2 linked regions of the Homo sapiens genome follow. The protein of the gene in region 2 interacts with the protein of the main gene of each other region in a pairwise test. Each region holds a gene or a part of one and is shown on either strand. Other genes may lie near its edges.

Region 1 (3,752 bases), on a different chromosome or scaffold from region 2:
AGGATCTAAAAATACTTTAGCTTTTATCAACTGACTCTTCTTCTGGCCCCAACTTCATCTCAGCATCATGAACATAAAGCTCTTCTAGCCGGGCATGGTGATTCACACCTGTAATCCCAGCACTTTGAGAGGCCGAGACGGGTGGATCACAAGGTCAGGAGTTCAAGACCAGCCTGGCCAAGATGCTGAAACCCTGTCTCTACTAAATATACAAAAATTAGCTGGGCATGGTGGCAAGTGCCTGTAATCCCAGCTACTTCGGAGGCTGAGGCAGGAGAATCGCTTAAAACCCGGGTGCCAGAGGTCACAGTGAGCCAAGATCAAGCCACTGCACTCCAGCCTGGGCGACAGAGCAAGACTTCGTCTCAAAAACAAACAAACAAACAAACAAACAAAAAAACTCTTCCAGCATAAATACCTAGAAATCACAATGTTTTCAGCTTGCTTTCCCAAACACCCCACCCCTCTCAATTCCAAATCAAGTAGGCAATGAATCAAAGAGATGAAGATACCTCCCCAATAGAATGATGAATCCATTTCCATTTAAAAAAAAAAAAAACAACTGAGTACAGAATCATATAAGCTTTAGAGATGGAAAAACCTTAGAATCCTCTAAATCTACTTCCTACCTCCTGTAGTTACCACTTCAGTAACTTCTCTGGGCAGTACATTTGTGACCTGGAATCTTAAGATGTGGGAAGGTAGGAAGGTTCTTTGGCTTGAATGTTAAGTAATTCTGAGTATAGTTTTTGTTTATTATTGATTGTTTTGTTTTTTTGAAACAGGCTCTCACTCTCTTGCCCGGGCTGGAGTGCAGTGGCACGATTACAGCTCACTGCAGCCTCAACCTCCCCAGTTCAAGTGACCCTTCTACCTCAGCCTTCCAAGTAGGTGGGACTAGAGGCACATGACACCACGCCCACCCTTGTAGAGACAGGGTTTCACTATGTTGTCCAGGCTGGTCTCGAACCCACACGAGGTTTCACTGTGTTGCCCAGGCTGGACCCCTGCAATCCTCCCGCCTTGGCCTCCCAAAAGTGTTAGGATTATAGGTATGAGCCACCACTCCTGGCCTGAGAACAGTTTTTAAAAGTTGTACATGGATCTTGTAGGTGACATGGTTTGACAGAAGTAGATCAAAAGTAATCTGTGTCATTTGTTTACTATTACTTCATTGTCTCTTACACGATTTCCCTATTTTAAGAAGGTTAAATTTTTTACCTACTAGCAATATTTTTAAATGTCTTTTAAAAGATATGAGCTATTAAAAAATACCCAAGTTACTTTTGGGCCCAAAACTGAATAGGTTTTTCATCTTCTAAAGATCTCTTTCAAGTTTGGTATAGACAGACATGGCTTTACTCAGTCATTCACTCAACAAGTACACAGCAAGGGCCTAACTCTAAACTGGACACTGCACTGTGCATTGAGAAGATGGAGAGCAGGAAAGATAATGTCCCTATTCTAAGGGAGCTTTGTTTTATAGAAGGCACAGTTGGATCATCACACAGAATTACAAATTCAGAAAAGTGCTAGGAAGGCAAAGCACAAGATGCTCTAAGAACATAGAGCCTGTAATCCCAGTGCTTTGGGAGGCTGAGGCAGGTGAATCACTTGAGGCCAGGAGTTCAAGACCAGCCTGGCCAACATGGCAAAACCCCGTCTCTATTAAAATACAAAAATGAGCTGGGCATGGTGGCACATGCCTGTAATCCCAGCTACTCGGGAGTAGCCCAAGAATCACTTGGGCCCGGGCGGCAGAGGTTGCAGTGAGCCAAGATCACATCACTGCACTCCAGCCTGGGCAACAGAGCAAGATTCTGTCTCAAAAACAAAAAAAAAAACAAAACAAAAAAACATGTAATAGGGTAAAACTGATACACCATGGGGATTCAAAGAAAAATTTCCTGAGGAAGTGATGGTTAAGCTGAGATCTGAATGGAGGCCATTCATATTTATGTAAAAACAGATGTCCATAAAATGAGAGGATTGGTCCAATAAGCCCAGCTACCTTACCTTTGGCATCTTTTATCCTACATCCTAAAACAATCTTTTTTTTTTTTTTTTGAGACAGAGTCTAGCTCTGTCGCCCAGGCTGGAGTGCGGTGGTATGATCTTGGCTCACTGCAACCTCCGACTCCAGGGTTCAAGTGATTCTCCTGCCTCGGCCTCCCGAGTAGCTGGGACTATAGGCAAGCACCACCACGCCCAGCTAATTTTGTATTTTTAGTAGAGATGGGGTTTTACCATGTTGGCCAGGCTGGTCTCAAACTCCTGACCTCAGGTCATCTACCTGCCTCGGCCTCCCAAAGCGCTGAGATTACAGGTGTGAGCCATGGCGCATAGCCCCACTCCCCTTTTTTGTTGTTTTAAAGAAAGGGTCTCATTCTGTTGCCCAGGTTGGGGTACAGTGGCACAATCATAGCTCACTGTAACCTTAACTCTTCGGCTCAAGAGCCCTCCTCGCTTCCCAAGTAGCTGTGACTACAGGCACATACCACCATGGCCAGCTAATTTTTTTTTTATTATTTTTTTGTGGACACAGGGTATTGATATATTATCCAGGCTGGTCTCAAACTCCTGGGCTCAAGCGATCCTCCCACCTCAGTCTCCCAAAGTGCTGGGATTACAGGTATGAGCCACTGCACCCGACCACAATCTCTTTTTTTAAAAAAGGAGAACAAAGTATGTAATAAAGATGTTTACGGCCGGGCGCAGTGGCTCACGCCTGTAATCCCAGCACTTTGGAAGGCCGAGGAGGGTGGATCACGAGGTCAGGAGTTCGAGACCAGCCTGGCCAATATGATGAAACCCCATCTCTACCAAAAATACAAAAATTAGCTGGGCGTGGTGGTACGCACCTGTAGTCCCAGCTGCTCGGGAGGCTGAGGGAGGAGAATCGCTTGAACCTAGGAGGCAGAGGTTGCAGTGAGCCGAGATTGTGCCACTGCACTCCACCCTGGGTGACAGAGCTAGACTTTGTCTCAAAAAAAAAAAAAAGATGTTTAAAAGCTAGTAGTTGAAAGTCTTTTGGGGAGAGGGACAGGGTCTTATTTAGCTCTGAATACCTCACATCACCTTGCCTGGTATTATTACTATCACAGTAGTCACTCAAATCTGGTAAAATGATTAGTGTCAGTATTAAATCAATGTTAATACTGTCTTTAAATAAATTTGCAAAACTACATCTCCTCACACAAGAAACCCCACTCTAAACTTCCTCGATTGTGAAAAGATGTTTTAATCTACCTCAAGAATTTAATAAAATAATATATGGCAAAATGCCGGGGTAGATTCTGAAGTGCTCGGAGTATATAATATCCCTGTGATCAAAAAGGTGGATCAGTCTCTTCTAAGCTGGTTTAGACTCAGCTGTGCTTCATTTTCCTTACTATGAGAAAAAATTCTAACAGGTTTGCATCCCCTCTCTGGCCTTGGTTCGCTCTGAGGAGGGTGAAATAACAAACTCTAAAGTTCCTTCTAGCTCCAGACACTGACCTGTAAACCTTTTAAAAGGATCAAGATTGCACTCCTCAGCATGAACGTTAGACTACTTCCTCACCTACTCCATTTCCCCAGGACCCCATGTTTCCTCTCAGGAATGGTAGCACGTAATTAATGAGTTAAGTTCTTTAAAAGACCTATTTTCTACTCATTTTACACACAGACTTAAGTTGAATTTACTCATCTAAATTAGATCTTCTGAATAATCCAAATAATTATTGTAAAATTTTACACGCCTCAAAGGACCA
Region 2 (3,752 bases):
GGGTCTCACTTTGGAATTACTTGGAGAGTTTGACAAGAAAACACCCATCCCCAGAGATACTGAAATCATTTGTCAAGTCTGTGGTTTGGGTGTCAAGATGTTCCAGAGCACAGCCAAGGTCAAGAACCAGGACTGTAGAGCAGTTTTCCCAGATAACTGCAGGTTGCCCATTGCTATAGAAATCATCCTCATGTTTATTAATTGTTCACGCCTTCTGAAATAGGGAAATCTGGCCATGAATGTACCCTTTTTTTTTTGCAGGGAAGTGGTGTGACTCAGTTTTGTATTCAATGTCTATTCTTTGCACATGGAGGAAAGACACAGTCCTATTCCACCCGTGGGTTTCACCTGTAGTTGCTTCTTGCTGTTGACATCATGGTGGGGCACAGAGACAGCATCTAATTCATCTTTGTCATCTAAGTGTGTTCCCACAGTACTCAACCATAGACTCTGGGTTCTAGGATTGTTTGTTTAACTAAAGGACCAGAATTGAATATATTCCTCTATCTCCTCCTTTGGGGTTTTCTATTACAGTGGGCTGGGAATACAGTTAACAGAACATGTAAAGCATTGTAACTTAATAGTTCAATAAGACACTGAGGGCCACAGTTCAGCTTTAGCTTTTGGACTTGGTGACACCTGTGCTGGATGCTCACAGAAGGGCCTTTTACCTCTTCTGTTTGGGGATTCAATCTAGAGGGATAGAGAGATTCTAGAGCTCTGGCTTCCTAATAAGGGGAGTTTTCTTTAATGAAAATTCCAGGTGTTTTATCTGATTTGCCAAATGAAAGTAGAGTTCAATTCCGAGACCTCAGTTTTATAATCTAAAGACAGGAATTATTAATAAACTTTTACAGTAATACAACATAAAAAGATACAATCTCTGCAGCCTTAACACAGAGAGATTTCAACTCTATTTTGGTTTTTCTTTGGTTTCGGACATAGCCTGTGGTAGGTTGGATGCCCAGCTTTGCTATGTAATTGATGTGTGACTAGCAAGCAAGTTATTCAAACCTGTTTGGTACTTGTTTTCATCCTTTGTAAGATGAAGATGACAACAGCTCCTATGTCATTGGATTGCTATGAAGAGTTAGAGCTATTTGTCCAGGCAGAAGGTAAAGGTTTTGCCTCTCCTCATGCACAGGTGTCAAAGCCACCTTCATTGGGATATTCCCAGTGCATTAGGCAGTTTCTCTGGGAAATCCCCAATTCCTCTCTTGTGTAATACTTGTTTCTTATTAAATACCCGGATGAGTTGTCATCTGGGTCCCTTCTTAAAGACAGAGCTCCAATGACTCCACCTACCTATGCTTACCTGTTTGAAGCAGAAATTTTATCCTCTTCCTGGATTGTTGGTACTGAAAGGCTCAAAGTTGGCTCTCTGGACATACATACGATATCAAATCTCACAAATGCAGTATCAGGAGAAAGAAATATACAAGCGAGACTGTTGCAGGAACTTCCTCATTCTCTGTCTTTTGAAAAAGTCCCTCTCCCTTACAGTAGGGTAAGCTTTCTGTTTATCTTACCAGAAACACAGTCCTTTTACTGTCCCTGGGTCAGTGCTAGAAACTCTTGAACAGCGCATTTATTCATAAACCAGAGCAACATCAAGGAAGCCAGGCAACATCACCTCTATATCCCAATTCTGTCCCTCTTCTCAAAGAATGTCCAACATTTGATTTTTTTCCCTATTTTCTCAACCAACTTGTTTTCACATCTAGAAAAATAATGCCTGCTTTTCCAATGGAATTAGCCCCAGACAAGAAGATACTTAACAGATACAAATGAATAAAGTGGAAAAAAATAAATGGTTGAGGTGGCAGAGGGCAACAAGGCACTGAAGATAGTCATTAATCAAAGCATGCAGGTGGGAGTGCGGAGTCAATGTCCACCCACTAGGTACTTTGAAAGGAGATCTGCTGCCTTACCCCAAGTCCTGGAGCAGCTCAGCCTCTCCATCGGATCTGCTCCACAGATCTGAGGGATCCTGGGTGCTCATCTTCCCTTCTAGAAGTTCTGCTCTGCCCATTCGCGCCCTTCACAGAGGTAGAGAGAGAGACACAACTGGGCTGCTCCTGACACCTTCTCGCTCTGTGAGACAGCAGCCTGCTATGGCTCTGAGTCTCCAAGGCAAGGAAGTGAAACTTGGTTACTTACTCCTCCCACCAACACCACCACCCTGGCCTGGAGGCACTGGCAGGAGTGTTCTGTCAGTCAGGAAGTATGCAAACTTAGGTAGCTACCTCTGAGGACACCCACACTACATCACGCAACAGGCGGTTGCTATCAAAGGAAATGAAGAGGCAACCACCCCACCTGGGATTGGACAACAGTGCAAACTGCTTGTGTGAGGCCAAACCCTAGCTTCTCCCTAATGCTATCAGCCTCTGGTTTGTAGTGGAGGATGCGTGCACTCTTTTACCCCATCTTCTTTCTGTCTTACACACCAACACAGGGAACACTGAGGAAGCTTCTCTATCAGGAACACCTTTAGAGTGGATAGAAAAAGCAGAAGCAAACCACAAATTCGACCCTGAAGTTTGATGTTTTAGCACTTTTGCAATATTTCTGCTTGTTTACCCAGACCTTCTAATATATCCTCAATGCTCCGAATAGGGATGATTCAGAGACAATTATTGTTTCCTCCACAGAAAAAGAATTAGGAGAGGAGAAGGTAGGAAAAAGTTACAAGGGGCCATTCTGGTGCCCACCTAATGGGGCATATTAGAACTCCTGGAGTCTTTTTTTTTTTTTTTTTTTGAGACAGTCTCGCTCTGTCACTCAGTCTGGAGTGTAATGGCATGACCTGAGATCACTGCAACCTCCACCTCCCAGGGTTCAAGTGATTCTTCTGCCTCAGCCTCCCAAGTAGCTGGTATTACAGGCACCCGTCATCATGCTCTGCTAATTTTTGTGTTTTTATAGAGACAGGGTTTCACCCTCAGGTGATACACTCACCTCGGCCTCCCAAAGTGCTGGGCTTATAGGCATGAGCCACTGCACCTGGCCTGAACTCCTAGAGTCTTTGAGTGCCACTTCCTTCATGGGCTTACTCACACCTGCATGGCTTTGTGCCCAGATTCATATGTAGAGCAGGATTCTATCTGCCTGGAATGCTAAAGGTAAATTGCAGTGACTGAATCCTTGGGAAGTGGAACAAAGTGCAGTATCAAATGAGTCAAGGACATATGTTGCTTCCTGCCTTTTCTATGTACCTACAGGTCTCTCTCTCCCTCTCCCTTTCTCTCTCTCTCTTCCTATCTCTACTCCCTGACTCATTCAGCACTCACCACAGTGCTCTGTAACTTGTTCTCACAGTGTGGCCTGAGGACTAAACAGCACAGCAGAACTGTTCCTAAAGGACTAGATGATTGCAAAAGGCTGCTGTGCAATGGTTCTATCCTTCATCTTCCTCCCTATTACCACTGTTCACCCGGGATCGGTGAGACCCGGGTAACACTGGTTGCCAGTGGGAAGTTCCTGAGTGTCTGGAGGCAGTCTGCTGAAGACTAAGCTCTGATAATACATATATAACTGACTAAATGAGCACTTAAATTCTTTTGGCTACAGTTTGCTCACAGAGAAGGACAGGGCCCACTTGAACAGAGAGGCCAGTGCAGGCCAGGGAGATACTGAATATGCATACAGCAGTGACAGGGGAACAGCCTGGGCACTAGAGTTCCTGTTCCCTCTCTAGAGCCCTTTATTTGGTGTTTTAGTATCTATTTCATTCCCATTTTTAGCAAATT

What was found. Proteins that work in one complex are often made in the same cells at the same time.
Region 1: the proteins of DAPP1 (region 2) and WDR20 interact in binary tests that used the Homo sapiens proteins (3 or more experiments, as listed by UniProt).

What each region holds. Positions count from the first base shown.
Region 1 is NC_000014.9:102,142,797-102,146,548, reverse strand, and holds part of WDR20 (WD repeat-containing protein 20), read right to left. Parts: intron 1-3,752. UniProt on the Homo sapiens protein: Regulator of deubiquitinating complexes. Activates deubiquitinating activity of complexes containing USP12. Anchors at the base of the ubiquitin-contacting loop of USP12 and remotely modulates the catalytic center of the enzyme.
Region 2 is NC_000004.12:99,815,194-99,818,945, reverse strand, and holds the start of DAPP1 (dual adapter for phosphotyrosine and 3-phosphotyrosine and 3-phosphoinositide), read right to left. Parts: upstream 2,120-3,752; 5' UTR 2,033-2,119; coding exon 1,932-2,032; intron 1-1,931. UniProt on the Homo sapiens protein: May act as a B-cell-associated adapter that regulates B-cell antigen receptor (BCR)-signaling downstream of PI3K.